2 separate regions of the Homo sapiens genome follow, and region 2 is linked to region 1. A link means that fine-mapping ties the variant in region 1 to the expression of a gene that starts in the linked region. Tissue or cell type: whole blood. Region 1 holds a variant in brackets; the other region holds the start of a gene. All regions are shown on one strand. Distances are from middle to middle. Region 1 overlaps LOC107986529 (a long non-coding RNA gene). Region 2 holds the start of ESR1 (estrogen receptor 1).

Evidence for each region. PIP is the estimated chance that this variant, and not a neighbour inherited with it, causes the effect.
Region 2: it holds the start of ESR1, and the variant in region 1 is fine-mapped to the expression of ESR1 in whole blood (TOPMed, PIP above 0.99).

The regions. Positions count from the first base shown.
Region 1 is chr6:151,753,813-151,762,342 of GRCh38, reverse strand. It overlaps LOC107986529 (a long non-coding RNA gene), which reads left to right. Exons shown (of 2, transcript XR_007059818.1): 2 at 8,415-8,530. It also overlaps a transcript of ESR1 not described here. Among named protein-coding and RNA genes, the nearest start is that of ESR1, 50 kb to the left of the region's middle. The variant C/T (reference allele first, on the strand shown) is at 4,581.
Region 2 is chr6:151,803,122-151,811,121 of GRCh38, reverse strand. It overlaps ESR1 (estrogen receptor 1), which reads right to left and starts at 3,440. Exons shown (of 8, transcript NM_000125.4): 1 at 2,758-3,440. The coding sequence starts at 3,209.

The DNA.
Region 1 (8,530 bases):
CACCATGCTGTTTTACTACAAGCTGTACAACATGCTTCCCAATGGATGTTCTAAAAACATGCATACACCTTAGTAAATGTTTATTTCTCATAGGATAAGCCCATGCATGAAAGAATAGATAACGGTGTCAGAATGATGAATTCATTTTCTCCTTCATTTAAGTTAGAATGATAGTTCTTTTTCACCTGAAAGCGGTGTTAGAAGTGTTGTCAACCTTAGCTGCTCAATGGAAGCACCTGGAGAACTTTAAAAGCCACTAAGATCTGGTTACCATCTGCAGAGGTTGTGATTTCACTGGGACTTTTAACCTCCCCAGAGGGTTCTGATGTGCACTCAAGATAAAAAAGCACGTTTTGTTTAGAGTAAGCAGAAGAATTTCAAGGTGTGTCTCCAGATCAGCCATCAACTTCACTTGGGAGCTTTTTAGAAATACAAATTATTGCACTCCCTCCTGGATCTACTGAATAAGAAATTCTGAGGGTGGGGCCCGGCCTTCAGTGTCATAACACACCCTCCCTGTGATTCTGATACTCACTTGAGTTTGAGAACCACTGATGGAGCCTAATTCCTTCAATGAGAGATAACTGAAATCCAGAGAATTTAAATTTGCTTCAGGTCACATGACCCATCCATGGTGGGGCTGGCTATGAAATGATAATGATAGCTAGCATTTATTGAGGGCTTACTGTTCTAGATGGACTGTTTTGCATCAACTAATTAATGTGATCACTGCAACGTTAAAGGGATATGTTCTATTAATATCCTATTTTACAGATGAGGAAACCAAGCCACAGAAATTGCTCAGGGTCACAGGGCTGAGGAGTAGAAAAGCAGGGATTTGAACACCTCCCCAGTCAGGCATGCAATGGGAATATGCCCAAAAACCTGTGAATCTTATTCTAAGAAAGAGAAGTGGGTGAATCTAAATTTCCTATGCAAATGGTTAGGAATAAGAATGACAGAGCCTAGGGTAGTATAGGCCTAAATCTTCATTTCTATTCATGATTGTTTCTACTATTTTAAAGTATTCCATGAGAATGATTATTATTTTCTTTAGTTAAATATCTAATATATATGAAAAAGAAGTATTAAAAAATAAGGCTAAAACGTAAATATTTTAAATAAACACCTGCCAACCACCAAGGTATTGCTGTTCTAGTTTTTTTTTTTAATGCTTTGACCTACATTTCCATGTGTTGAATAATTAGTAGTGGGAAAATGGTATTGGATGAGATATTAAGAAATGTTTGCATACCCTTCGCCCAGCCACTATTTCTCAGGAACAGAACAGCATGCTAGTAGAGAGCGATGTATAGTTACCTTCTTGAAAGTAACATCCTTAGCCATAAATCCATGAAATGTGTACTGAAACATATCAGTATGCTAATAAGCACACAAAAATATTTTCCAATATTCCAAAAAGGTCTCAATCATAGAGTTTTTTATCTTTTAATAGATAAGTGAAACTTTAATCGATCCATTATTTTCTGAACATCTTATCATAGTAACAGTGTCTACCAATTTCTGTAGCACTTTACCAAGAGCTTGCAGCTTCACACATAGCCTCCATCTAGTTCTCACAGCAGTCTGTGGGATAAGTATGTGCAGTGCGTTTACTGTCATGGGTTGCGATGGGGAAGAGCAGGTGCTGGGGGGCAGCAACTCGCCTCGGAGGACTCAAAGAAGTGTCTTACCAGAGAGCATTAAGGGAGCAGGCTGGGGAGCGCAAATAAGCCTATCTGCAAATTCCACATTTACCATAATAGGTCCGGGAAGGAGAGAACAAAACAAAGGATAAGCCAAAATATTCTTCCTAAGACAACAAAGAAAGGACACAGATAATAGGATGGCTCTCAAGATGGAAACACAGAGAAAAGAAGACAGAAGATTACATTATGCTGAAGTCTGAATTGGACAATGGATTTTTAAGAGGAGGGATATTTAATATTCTATTTCTAGATGCTTGTTTGTTGCAATATAGACCCTTTCTTCAATGGAGTTTTCCACCAACTACAATGCCTTGTTGGGTGGTCTTGTGTGGGATTCAAAGAAAGGCAATGAGTTCTACCTCTGGACCCACCCAGTGTGGAACACGACTGTGACCCAAGGGAGGTTAAAGTGACCCACTAATTCAGAAAGGAAGAGCTGAGAACCAAAGAGAGCCCTGAAGAAACAAGTCTCCTGGGAATATGTATATATGGACGTGGTAGGGGAATTGGTCTTCACAAATTGAAGATTGAGCCAACCTTCCCTAGATTTTCCATGATAAGGTGATCCCTGATGTCAGCTTACTCACACATATGCATGTGTGTTTCAGTTAGGTTGTTTAATAAACCATGCATAGACTAATCTGTAGGATAGATTTAGGCAAATTTGATTAAGCTTTTACTGATTTTATAATATTCTGAATTTTACCAACCCTTTCAGGTGCCATTACTTTGAATGGCAAAAACCGCAGTTACTTTTGCACCAACCTAATACCTGAAGGATCCAATTCTGATGATCAGAGAAGCAAAGCTGTACTTTCCTAAGAAGGACCCCTGAGGAAGGTCTGTTCCTTCTTGGGTATGCCACCTGATATACATCCGCAAAAATATTTGTAAAATGTAACCATAGTGCCATGTCATTTTATCAAAAATGAAAATGTGTCCAAGATTTCCATCATCTAAATATCAGCCACCAACTGGTGTTCTGCAGCGTCAAAGCTGCAGGGCATGCTGGGGAAGGCTAAGGAGATACTAAACTAGCTTCAATTATTTGAACACCTTAAATACAGTAAAGAGCCTCTAATTATTTTTCCTGTTATTCTTTTTTTATTATTATTATTATTATACTTTAAGTTTTAGGGTACATGTGCACAATGTGCAGGTTAGTTACATATGTATACATGTGCCATGCTGGTGCGCTGCACCCACTAACTCGTCATCTAGCATTAAGTATATCTCCCAATGAAGAGCCTCTAATTTATAAACATAATTTTAATAGATCAGCAGGACCATATTGTCCTATGTAATGGAACTCACAGGAATATTCTGGTTTTATGTTTGGTTTTCTTTTTTTTTTTTTTTTTTTTTGAGACAGAGTCCAGTCGCCATGCTGGAGTGCAGTGGCATGATCTCGGCTCACTGCAACCTCTGCCTCCCGTGTTCAAGCAATTCTCCTGCCTCAGCCTCTTGAGTAGCTGGGACTACAGGCACGCACCACCACACCCAGCTAATTTCTGTGGTTTTAGTAGAGACAGAGTGTCACCATGTTGGCCAGGATTGTCTTGATCTCTTGACCTCCTGATCCGCCTGCCTTGGCCTCCCAAAGTGCTGGGATTACAGGCGTGAGCCACTGCGTCCGGCCTTATGTTTGGTTTTCTAGACCATGTAGTAGATTTTGAGAAGTTTATTGTTATTACTCCCAAGTTGCTAGTAATTTTTATTTTAACTCATTGTGATGACAAGAACACTGGAAAGAGACTAGGAGAGGCACCTTTTCATGCTTAACTCTGCCAGCAAATCAGTGTGAGACCCTGGGTGAGTCACTGCCTGTCCTCACCCCCAGCTTCCTCTCCTTCTTCTTTTTTTTTTTTTTTTAATTTGAGACAGAGTCTCACTCTGTTGCCCAGGCTGGAGTGCAGTGGCATGATATTGGCTCACTGCAACCTCTGCCTGGTTCAAGCAATTCTCCTGCCTCAGCCTCCTGAGTAGCTGGGATTACAGGCACCCACCACCAGGCCTGCCTAATTTTTGTAGTTTTAGTAGAGATGCGGTTTCACCATGTTGGCCAGGCTGGTCTCGAACTCCTGACCTCAGGTGATCCGCCCACTTTGGCCTCCCAAAGTGCTGGGATTACAGGCATGAGCCACCATCCCTGGCCTTCCTCTTCTATAAAATGAAAGACTGGGCTAGATATTCTCTAAAGTCCCCAGGAACTCACACATGCTATATTTTTCTGATCCTAAATGCATCATTATCATGACTTCTCTTGAAGTATTGTAGAACAGCTAATGAAGAACAAATTGGTTGAAGACTATTAAATAAATACATAAAAAGGAACTGAGGAGACGAGTATATTTTAAGTTGCATTATGACAGGATGTCCCCAGAGGCATCTAAAATAGTAAAAGTAATTTGCTTCTTAGCATCCATTTTGCTACCTCTATTTGGGAAAACAAAGAAACCAGCCCATAACTACCCAAATTCCTACTAAACTTCTACCATGCAGGTGACTCTAAAGAATGCTGAACAGCAAGACCATGAAACTACAAAGAATTCATATGGCCTGCACATTCAAAACTCCCAGGGATTTTGGAGACTTTGCAAAACTTTCCATTCCTAAAATTGTATAAGCCACTTTACAGTTTATAAAATACCTTGCTTCAGAAAACAGTCAAAGGTAAATACTCCCGTACATTCAGCCTCGAAATGGCCTCTGTTTAGAAGCACACTCTAATAGGTTCCTCAAGGTCAGACCATTGCCTTATTACAGGAAATGGATGAAGTCATTCCTGGCTCTCAGTTTTTCTGAAAAACTACCTGCTTTCTCAGTTTCACACACCACACCCCTCTATAGCTCTTGTTTTGTCTCCTCGGT[C/T]GTGGCACCTGTTCTGAGAACTGAAGCTTTCATCTTGGTTCTAGTAGCACATGAGAAAACACATTTGCAAAAGCACAAACAAGCAAAGGGGTCCAAGCGAGAACTTCAATGTTTGGGTGAAACAACAGCTAAATTTGTTCACAGTAATAATAAACATGCATGAGCTCACTCTTTCAGAGAGCAGTAATTTGAGCAGCAATTCTGAGGTCAGGATCCAAGGTTCTAGGCCAGCTCCAGCTCAGTCTGCTCTGACCAGAATATATTTCTTCCAGACTCTCAGGGTCTTGCTTTCAGCCATTTGGGGTACAAGAAAGGAAGATGAGAAGAAAGGCAAGAGACAAGAGAGATGGAAACTTTTTAATATGTCCTTAAAAGCCTCTTTATAGAGATGAGTAATAAAAAGATTGGGGCCAGCAAACATTTCCACATTTTCTCTAAACAGTTATAAAACTGAGAGTCTTCTAAGGTCAGAGTTAAAGTAGTACAGCCTTGTTTTTGTATTTTAAATGTTTTCTTTTTTTTTTTAATGGAACGTTAAAATAGCCTCAGTACCAGTAAAAGGTGTGCACCAGAGTATTATTGGATTCAGGAGAGAGGTAACAGGACCCACTGAGTAGGGAGGTTAGACAGTTCTGATGTGAACCCTCACTAATGCAAAGGAACTCTCTCTGTACCCTCACACATACACATTTTTCTCTCCTCCTCCAATCAAGAAATGATATCCTGTGAGATCATTTATTTTCTTTTTAATTTTTATTTTATTTATTTATTTTGAGACAGAGTCTCGCTCTGTCGCCCAGGCTGGAGTGCAGTGGCTCAATGCCGGCTCACTGCAACCTTCGCCTCCAGGGTTCAAGCGATTCTTGTGCCTCAGCCTCCCGAGTAGCTGGGATTACAGGCATGCACCACCACACCCAGCTAATTTTTGTATTTTTAATAGAGACGGGGTTTCACCATGTTGCCCAGGCTGGTCTTGAACTCCTGACCTCAAGTGATCTGCCCGCCTCGGCCTCCCAAAGTGCTGGGATTACAGGCGTGAGCCATCACGCCCGGCCCATTTAATTTATTTTCACCAGTTAGAATTTGTTACTCTCAATTTATTCAAAAACTATAATTGACAGTACCTACCGGCCAGTACGGTTATAAATATTGGAAATAGAGCATTGGACAAAACAAAGAAGTCTACCCTCATAGAGCTTATATTCTAGTGTAGAGAGACAGACAAATAAATAGGTAGCATACACAGGAGGTTAGAAAGTAATACCAGCACTTTGGGAAGCCAAGGTCAGGAGTTGGAGACCAGCCCGACCAACGTGATGAAACCCTGTCTCTACTAAAAATACAAAAATTAGCCAGGCATGGTGGCACGCGCCTCTAATCCCAGCTACTCGGGAGGCCGAGGCAGGAGAATTGCTTGAACCCAGGAGGTGGAGGTTGCAGTGAGCCAAGATTGCGCCACTGCGCTCCAGCCTAAGTGACAGAGTAATACTCTGTCTCAAAAAGAAAAGAAAGTGAGATAGGAAAAAAAATTTAGTAAGGGAGTAAAATGTACATGGGGAGGAGGGAAAGAAGATGGAGGAAGATGCAGTGTTAAATATGGGGGCCAGGGAAGGACTCATGGAAGTGAAATTTTAATAATCACCTGAAGAAAATGAAGGAACAAGATATGCACTTGAGGAAATAGCAAACAGAAAAGTTCTGGGTCAGAGGCATGTTCAATGCACTCAAGGGGTAGCAAAGAACATGACATCAGAAGGTCAGGAGGGGGCCATGCAGATCTGACTGTTACTGAATGGAAGTGGAGAAGATGGGGAGTTTTTGAAAAGAGTCATGGCTGGGCGCGGTGGCTCACACCTGTAATCCCAGCACTTCGGGAGGCTGAAGCGGGCAGATCACCTGAGGTCAGGAGTTCAAGACCAGCCTGGCCAACATGGCGAAACCCCTTCGCTACTAAAAATACAAAAAGTAGCTGGGCATGGTGGCTGGCACCTATAATCCCAGCTACTTAAGAGGCTGAGACAGGAGAATCACTTGAATCTGGGAGGCGGAAGTTGCAGTGAGTAGAGATCATGCCACTGCTCTCCAGGCTGGATGACAGAGCAAGATTCTGTAAAAAAAAAAAGAAAAGAAAAAGAAAGAAAAGAGTCATGAGGTAACCTGATTTCCATTTTTAAAGGACAGAGCTGACTGGCAGGACAGAGCATGGGCAGGAAAGGCAGGAGCAGGGAAACCAGCTCTGCGGCGGCTCCAACACTCCAGGGAACTCTGGTGATAACTAAGAGCAGGTGGGTAGCAATGGCAGTGATAGGAAGTGGTTAAATTCCAGATAGCCAACAGGATACTCTGATGTTTAGATGAGCCCATGGAAGAGAGGAGTCAAGAATGACCCCATGGTGTTTGGCTTGAGAACTGGAAGGAAGGATCTGCCATAAATCAAGATAGGACTCATTGTAAGAAGAGGAGGTTTAAAGGGGAGATTTGGAATATGTTTTTTGTGTTTTGCTCTTTGCTTTTTTTTTTTGGTTTTGGTTTTGGTTTTTGTTTTTTTTTTTTGAGGCAGGGTCTCACTCTGTCACCCAGGCTGGAATGTAGTGGTGTAATCATAGCTTACTGCAGAATCAACTTCTCAGGCTCAAGCAATCCTCCCGCCTCAGCCTCCCCAGTAACTGGGACTACAGGCATGCACCATCACGTCCAGCTAAGTGTTGTATTTTTTGTAGAGACAGCTTTTCTCTATTGGCCAGACTGGTCTCGAACTCCTGGGCTCAAGTAGTCTGCCCACCTCAGCCTCCTAAAGTGCTGGGATTACAGGCGTGAGCCACCACCCCCAGCCCAGAATTTGGTTTTAGACATGTTAAGTTTGGCAAAGTTCTTAGAAATCCCAGTGGAGATGTCACGTAGCAGTTGGATGGACACGTCTAGAGTTCAAGGAGAAAGGGAGTGATAGGTGGTGTTTGAAGCCATGACTCCAGATGTCAATCTAAGGAGAGAAGTCCAAGGACTTAATCTGAGGAGCACCAGTTTTGAGAGATTGTGGAAAAATGGAGCAACCAGCAGAGGAGACTGAGAAAGTGAGCCAACAGAGAAAGAAAAACCAGGAGGGCAAAGTATGTTGGAAGCCGGGTCGAGGGAGGTCTCAAGATGGAGGGAATGATCAAGTAGGTGAAATGTGGCTAAATGGTCACATAATATAAAAACTGAAAAGTGACATCGGATTTAGCAGTGGTCCCAGGTAAGATAAATGAAGGCTGACTGCTGCTGTAATATGGGCACTAGCCTGAGAGAAATCAATCAAGGTTTAGCTAAATAATTAGAAATTAGGAAAAAATTCTTATCATTTCCGATTGTCCTTTGTTTCATAAATCTTACTTTACAGGCCAAAGGCTAAATAAAATAAACACTCTTTTATCCATCCCTTATGCAAAAAAAAAAAAAATAGCAATAGATAGAGATTTTTATGTTCTCTCCAGCAACAAACTTATAATAATAGACACTTCTTAGCTAACAACAGGAGGTTTAACTATTTTTCACTTTTCTAAACTTCAGGAAATTATAAGCGACTTTTTTCTTAATTTAAAATAAACGTTTGCTTCTTTTCCAAATTATAACTGGAATTCAAAACTGTTTATTTCCATTGACTATTTTGACTTGAGTTTTTGTTCTCCATTTACTCTGTCCTTCCTGCTGCTTCTGAAGGTTTTCTCTGTTTGTGGGAGCATCTCTGATTTCTCTCTTTTTATCCCCTGCAATCTCTGACTCCTCTCCAGGTCTTCATTCTGCATCATCATAGTCGATTTTATCTTGGGCACCATAAAATTCTATTTCTTCCCGCAGTAGCAGGCTGATGTCACCCACAGAACATAATGGATTCTAGGAACAGGCCCACAAGAGGAAAAGTGGGCAAGTACAAATATAGGTAAGAGGAAGAGAGAAGCTGGAGGCTGGGGAAC
Region 2 (8,000 bases), 49 kb before region 1:
GAAATGGAAGAAGGTAACCACAGCATCTCAATGCTAAATGACGTGACCTTCACATAAATTCTCTGAACATCCAGTGGGACACTCGGGAGGACAGTCCACATGACAGCACCATTCTACAATAGAAAAGTTAAGAATCAGATAGTAAAACTTAGCCTAAATGACTAAAGACACCAACCTAATTTATAAGGGGAAAATGAAGACAATCAAAATAGCCTTTTGATTTGTATAGGTAAAAACAACCAGCCACTTGCCTGAATTTTTTGTTTTCTACTGAACATATAATATTTTAGGCCATTAGCTTTCTAATTTTTTCTTTGAATTCAATCCACAGTAAGAAATACATTTTACATCACAATCAGCACACAGAAGCACATATAATTAAAACAGATTTTCAGGAAACAAAACTTATCCTTACGAAATACCATGCACTCTGATATTTTCTATTATATTCCTTTCCATTTTAGTCCTTTTAAAAAATATTCTAGACTCACTAAACTGAGTTCATGACCCTCTGGGTCATGACAAGCAGTTTGAAAACACTGCTTTCAGCCCCAAAACTTTTGAGAACTACTTAAGAAACTTAAAGTTTCCTAAAAGAGCCCAATCAATCCTTTCCTTTATACCCAGAGTCATTTAAGCAGAAAAACTGAGAGGGGAAAAATACTAAATAATATCTGTCCATATGAAGAACTTGCATAGATGCTTCTTTTCCTTGCTGGATAATAACAGGCAGAATTCTAACAAAAGAGGAAAGATAATCCGGGAAATAAAACACAGGAAAAATCATTCTAAAACTGAATTTCCACACAGAGTCCCATTTGTGCAAGTTTTTTTTTTAATTTTTAAGTTCCTTGTCTCTTTTTTTATTATTCTAAGAGTGTTTGAATATCATGTAATGCAGAAAGTGTAAGATAGGGCATATTACACTGATACCACTTATCACTGGGATGATGAACAATTTTGAATAAGATGCGATCCCCTCTGTATTTGACCAGGTTCACTTTGTAATTATTAGCAAGGCAGTAAATAATCTACCAAGGAGCAGTCTCATTAGTGCCCATTGAAATTCAGCAGCATTAATTTGCAATAAAAGAACTGAAAATTAAATAGGGAAGAAAATGGTTTCTGGAGTCCATCATAAGGTTATGGAATTCACATCATACCAGTGCCTTCCTTCACATCAAGCAGTTTTAAATGTTGTGTGGAATTAGACTTAATCGCTGTACTTTGTTCTTCCATTTAAAAAAAAAAAGGTGGGCAGAAGAAATCCTTTTTCTCTGTTTTAACCCTAAATTAAAACAAGTAAAATTAATTTGAAATATGCCAACCTTTAAAAGTTTTGTTCATTGTTTGTCTTTTGAGTAAAGACAGCTTGGATCTGCGTGGCTGTGGGATGCTCTAAATTTCTCCAAGGCGGCTGAAGATGCACACTGAATACCCCCAGAATCTGCCCTTCAGTATCCTCTGGGGCCAAACTGCACTTTAGTCCCCTTCCTTCTGCTATAAATATCCCTGGAAACAGAATACTGAACAAAAACTGGTCCACGGCTTACAAGGCAGAAAGATATAGGGACACCAGTCCGGATACCAGTGTACAGTTGGGAAATGCCTAATTCAGGACCCAGCCATGTGGCGCCCTGAAGCTTCCAAACCCAGTCCGGGGTACACCTGTCCTGTGGCCACCTAGGAAGGTGTTCACCAGAAGCGCCCACCTAATCCCTCTGCAGGCCCATCAGGAAAACAAAAAACAAAAAACAAAAGGAGAAACTGGGCAAGAGAAAATGGGAGGGAGAGGAGAGGGAGAAAGAACAATTCTTGTAGGGAAAAAAATTAAAATGAGGACACACAACCTTCGCCATTGAAGTCACAAAGTGGTCTCCTGTGTCCTGGACCGGCCGCGCTCCTTCCACAGTGGCTGCGAGGCGCAGACCCTGGCTGACCCGCACGCCACTCCGGGGCATTCTCCCCGGGTGGGACAGGCTTGTCACTGGGCTGGCAGGAGATTATTTTTAAGCACTTGTGCTTCCATATGGCTTGTTTTAAACTCGCGGGACACCTACAAATTTCCGGCTGTCAGAAGTCACATGCCAGCAATCCGCTCCAGCGCGGACTCAGCCAGCTAACTCCGAAATCAGACCCATTCAACTCCCAATCGCTCTCTAAAGCCCCAGGACGTGGGGTGGGGAGGAGGGGAAAGCGGGTGACAGGAATCGCTTCCCAGAAAGTCATCATCATAGCTGACATATTTCCAATCAAATAGTCTAGATGAAAGGAAATTTGGGGAGCACATTAAACAAAAACATTAAAAGGATAAATAAAACTCTGCTGAGCTCTGCTAACTCCAAACACCCCCAACTTTAAATGCCAAGAGCGAGACCTTCCCAAGTGACTCAAAGCGCCCCGTGTTTATTTGCCTGGAGGTGTTTTCCCCCACAAATAACTGCTGCTTTGTCTGGTTTTCCAACGTGTGTTTTGTTAGGAAGCCCGGGCTTTCGGGTCTGCCTCTCGCACGGACGGTAAGTGGGTGGAGAGTACGTTTTTTTCAGCTGCCCGGCGAGAGAACTTGACTCTGAACGCAGCGCGGGCTGCACGCAGAACCCCCGGGCTGGGCCGCGCGCCCCGGGCTCCCTGCGCGCACCCTCGGGTCGCGCGTCCCGCGGCTCCCGCAGCTCCCTAGGCTCTCCCTTCTCCCTCCCTCCCTCCCTCCCTCCTGCCGGGCGCGGCGGCCACCCCGACGGGCGGCGCGGGCGCGGGTACCTGTAGAATGCCGGCGGGCCGGCCTCGCGCACCGTGTAGCCGCTGGGCTCGTTCTCCAGGTAGTAGGGCACCTGCTGGCCGTGGGGCTGCAGGAAAGGCGACAGCTGCGGCGGCGGGTGCAGTAGCATCAGCGGGCTCGGAGACACGCTGTTGAGTGGGGGGAAACCCCCCAGGCCGTTGGAGCCGAACGCCGCAGCCTCAGACCCGGGGCCGTAGGGGAGGCCGGTCTGACCGTAGACCTGCGCGTTGGCGGCGGCCGCGGCGTTGAACTCGTAGGCGGCGCCCTCGGGGTAGTTGTACACGGCGGGCTTGCTGCTGTCCAGGTACACCTCGCCCAGGGGCCGCTCCAGGGGGATCTTGAGCTGCGGACGGTTCAGGGGCTCCAGCTCGTTCCCTTGGATCTGATGCAGTAGGGCCATCCCAGATGCTTTGGTGTGGAGGGTCATGGTCATGGTCCGTGGCCGCGGGCAGGGTGCAGACCGTGTCCCCGCAGGGCAGAAGGCTCAGAAACCGGCGGGCCACCTGGAAAAAGAGCACAGCCCGAGGTTAGAGGCGACGCAGCGCATGTCCCGCCGACACGCGAGCTCTGGCCCCGGCCCTGCCCCGGGAGCCTGCGGGTCCGGTGAAGCCGGGCGACCCGACGGGAGCAAGTGCAGTCCCAGGACGAACGCCCTCCGCCAGCTCCTGGGCTCCCGGGCCTCCAACTTTAAGTACTGGTCTCCCGAGCTCATATGCATTACAAAGGTGCTGGAGGACGGCCAGGGACTGTTGCCTTGCCCTGACATTGGCTTAAACATCACTCCAGGCACAACTCGATTTGGAGCGATCCCAAAGAGCAGCTTCCCTGAACTTTACTTTACTTGTCGTCGCTGCTGGATAGAGGCTGAGTTTCACGGCCAGGGGGCGGGGGCGCACGAGGATCTGCTAAAGGTGGCCCAGGGAAGACTGGGCTTAAAATAAACGCGAAAGACGGATCCAGGGGCCGGCTTTCTCTAATGTGCTGCCTTATGTGCCCCGTGCCAGACTCCGATATATCTCTGTTTGTCTCTCTTTCTGTTTGATTCCCCCTCCTCGTTGGCTAGAAATACGTAGTGTGTACATAGGATGACCCTGGGGAGGACTACACTGTAACCGAGATAGGGCAGATAGAATGGGGTGTGCGGTTGCATACGCAGCCAGCCACAGACAGCTATATTTAGCAGCTGGGGGAACTGACAGGGGGCATCTGAGGGGAAGGGGGCGGAGATTCAGGGTATACATATAGGAAGAGCTGCATTTTGCCATCAGGAGAATGCAACCTGCCAGGACCTCAGTTTCTTCCTCTGCAAAATGCTCCCAAAGTAGATAGACCCTTCCACAACCTTCTGAGATTCTCTCAGCCTGACTTGTGTGTTTATGTTGGACCACAGTACTGTACTTGGTCCCATTAGGAATTCTCATGTGAAGGATGATTCAGAAAAACCTTTGGTTAGGGCGCACATGGGTGTTCATGCCTTCCACAGGTTGGTTATGCAACCAAAACTTCAGAAAACTGAATATAAAATGTGACCTTTTCATACCAAACATAACCTCAGGTCACGAACCAAAGCTTTGGCAATTATGTTACATTGTCGGTCTGGTCCAGCTAACAGATTTTTAAAATGCATTTCTGCATGTCTATCCTTTAGTCCTACAACTCGATCTTCTCGGTTCACTTGGGCTAGGATATGCAGAATCAAATATCCAGATGAAAAACAAATAGAAAAAAGTTTTTAACTGAATTAAAAGTTAAACATGCACACGCACATACACACACACATATATGTGTATATATATATATATATATATATATATACATATTAAGGAGACAAAAAATAGGTGAAGTATATCATGCGTCTATAATCTTGGATAGTTTATACTTTTGAATAAACTTCCTTTGCTGCAGCCTAATAGACTCTGATACAACTATCAATACTTTGTTTTAATTGCTATCCCAAACACCCAACAGAGTATCTGACGAAGTGTTCATGGTCTATCTAAATGCCAAGCTTACTGTTACTAAGAGTTACATTTTTGACTATTTTATATCAAGTATACATTTTATCTAATTCTTACAAAAATAGACCATTGTTGGACAATATGCAAATGTAGCTGAAGCCAAAATCGAGTTTAGCATTAATGACTATAGATTGTCAGCAAATAAAGGGTTAAAAACACATTAGGTGCATCGCAGATATTTCCCTTTATGGCCAGCAATCATTACTTTCCAAAGCAATTTTTTACAGATGATTTAATTTCCATAAATCACACTTTCAATTTTCAAATGCCTTTTTAAAACACATGCAAAAAGCACTTCATAGGGCTCTTAAAAAATGTGAACCTGCCAAATTATATGCAAATGGCACAAAGAATCCTACAAGTCCTGAAAGAAAAAGGAGACACACACATACCCCCATGGAGAACAGCAATCCTCATCTCCCTGCTAGGATACAGACACTAGCCAGAAAGGTAAGTTGCTTTCTCAAAATGCTAAAGCTACAGAGAGAGAAATCAAAACAAGCCTACCCTGCTGGATCAAGAACGTCTTTCCAGAAATGTTCCATGGGCTTGTAGAAGTCAAGGGCCGAGAGAGTGAGAAGGAAGGAAGGAATGTGCTCGCATGTGCGAGTGGCTCAGTGTGTGAACTAGGCAGAGAGAGTGTGTGGATGTGTTTGTGCGTGGAATGGCAGGGATTCGGGAAGCAGCCAGTAGGCAGGGCACTTGGCAGCCCCTCCCGGCAGACACGCAGCTGGGCTACTGCACAGCGCTGGATGAATGGCAGTGGGGAGTGAGGGGAGACTTGCTGTCTGCTCACAGGGAGCAGTGTGGCACAGCCAGAGAAAGCTGTACTGGGGAGGAGAAACCCCAGCCCCTTTGCCCCTACCCTTGGAGGCTGGAAAGTACCCTATGCTTTCTGCTGCCACCCCAAGCAAGAGGAAAAACAGGCTTGCTGTGAATCATAGTCTTACGGCTAAAATAGAATGCCAGTCAAAAGTGTATGGATATCAAGTTTACAAAATAGGACATGGGTGGTTTTTCCGAAAGAATATAATTTAACAATAAAAGCCTTCTGGGATACATGTGGATCAAATGCCTTACTGGCCCTAGCCCCCAGTCTCTGAACAGAGGCATTGCCATGCCTCCGATTGCACCAGGAAACCAGACTTTGGAATAAATGTTTTGGCATTCTAGGGATGTGTTTCCAGCTGAAATGTAATACTCCTCCACTTCGTTAACCAAACCCACAAACCTTTCCATGAATAGCTCAGTTGACTGCTTTCTGTAAACATGTGAAAAATACGTATTATTAAAAGCCTAGGATATGAACATAAGATAAAGGTAGATACCTTTGTTTTAAACTGATTTTAGGCTTTCGAGTTGCACTGACCGTGATTGGGAACGAGGTCTCTCATTTCCCAGTGGCGTTCACATGGATCCACCTCTTGACCACTTTCTCAACTATTCTCTCGGCCATAGTACTAACACGCAATACTGAGGTGCTCCTAGAGTGCCCACGCTCAGGGTCCCAGGACACATGACACCCAATGGAGGCTTTGTTGCCAGACATTAGTCACCACCTTGGATATTAAATGACTCTAATCACAATGCCAGGAGTGGCCGGTCTCTGGCCCTGGGACACTATGCAGTTACTGAGAGATTTATGAGTGGCTCTTGAGACCAGTACAAAAAAGAAATAGAAAGCCATAAAAATGTTAATGATGCCATCATGCAAATATATGTTTTTGTGCTTTGAAAGACCCCCAGTATTGCAGTGTTTGAGCACAGGAGAGCTCTCTCCATAGTCAGTATTGAAAATAAATACTGGATATAAATAAATATTGAAAAGAAAGACTGTTACCCTTTGTTGGTGACAGTGGTGCCTCCTGTAGGTCAACAATGGCCACCCATGCTCTAGACCAGTCCCAGAAAAAAGCAAGAGTATTCAGGGAGGGAGGAGAGAGGAACAGGGGAAAGGAGAAGGAAAGGAAAGGGGATCTGCAATTGTTCACTATTGACATAGGAAGAATAAGAAGGTTAGCTGTCTCCTCACAGGCTTTGATTGTTCAGAGACTTACAATCAAAGTTAGCCCAAGAAGTTCAGTAAAGGCAGTTTTCTTAACCACTTTCTCTCCAGCATTCTCTTCCAAACTCATCTTGGTGAGCCTTGTCCCTGGGCTTGGTGAGCATGGGTGGGAAAGTATACTGTGCTACGCCGACTTTCCTCTTCTGCCTTTGGCAAAAACTTCACTCGGGCTCCCAGCTCTCTTGGCTTCCCTCCCTACCCTCTCCTGCTGGACACACACGTTCCAGCCGTGACTTACTGGCTCTCTCAGGTGAAGAAGGGTAAAGATTGATCTGGCTCCTCCGTTGAATGTGTCTCCAGCCCCACTTTTCCAGCGGTCTGCTGGGCATTGCAGGCTTGTTCAAATATGAGTCACCATTCTCAAACATGGTGTTCCTCTCAACTTCCCCGTGTCTGTGCCCAGCATCACTGTCTCTCCAGCCACCCAGATTAAAATCTCACTGTCTTCTTCGAGGGCTGATTTTCCCTTGCCTTCCACACCTAATCAAGAGGCAATTCCTAAGCCTTCTAGCTTTACAATCTCTCTTTTTCCATTGCATTTCGGCCACTCCCTTTGAGACCCATTACCTTACCTGTCCTAACGGCCTCCTAAGGACCACTCTGCCCTTTCCTCCCGGACTTCATCCTAAACCCTGCAACCTGTTTACTTTCTTGGATTTTTTTTTACTGCTTCAGGATCCATCTTGACATGACCCAGCTCTGTCTTTAACCCAAATCATAGCTTCCCCCATGAGTTCAGGGCTTCCTCTCTGCCCATAACGATCCTTCCTAGTCCATCTCCTCCGACTGTAACCTATGCTTCAGCCAAGCAAAATTTTAATACTCCAAGAACTCAAGGCTTTTCTTTTCTTCTACCTTAAATCCCCACTTTCTTGGCTTGTCAGGGGAAAGCATGCCTCTTGTAATAGGTCCAGCCCAAATGCTACCACATTCATTATTCCTTCCTTTAGTCTCTATTCAAAGAAAATTTCCTCTCCTCTGAATTCTAGTAGTAGTTATCATGCATTTATCAAATTCTTCCTGAATTAGAGTTATTTATCTGTTTTTTATCTCCTCATGCTGCTCATAAGCTCCTTGAGGACAAGGTCTGGCTAGAATTACTTGGGAATTATGAGAACCCAGCACTGTCCCTGGCCATGTT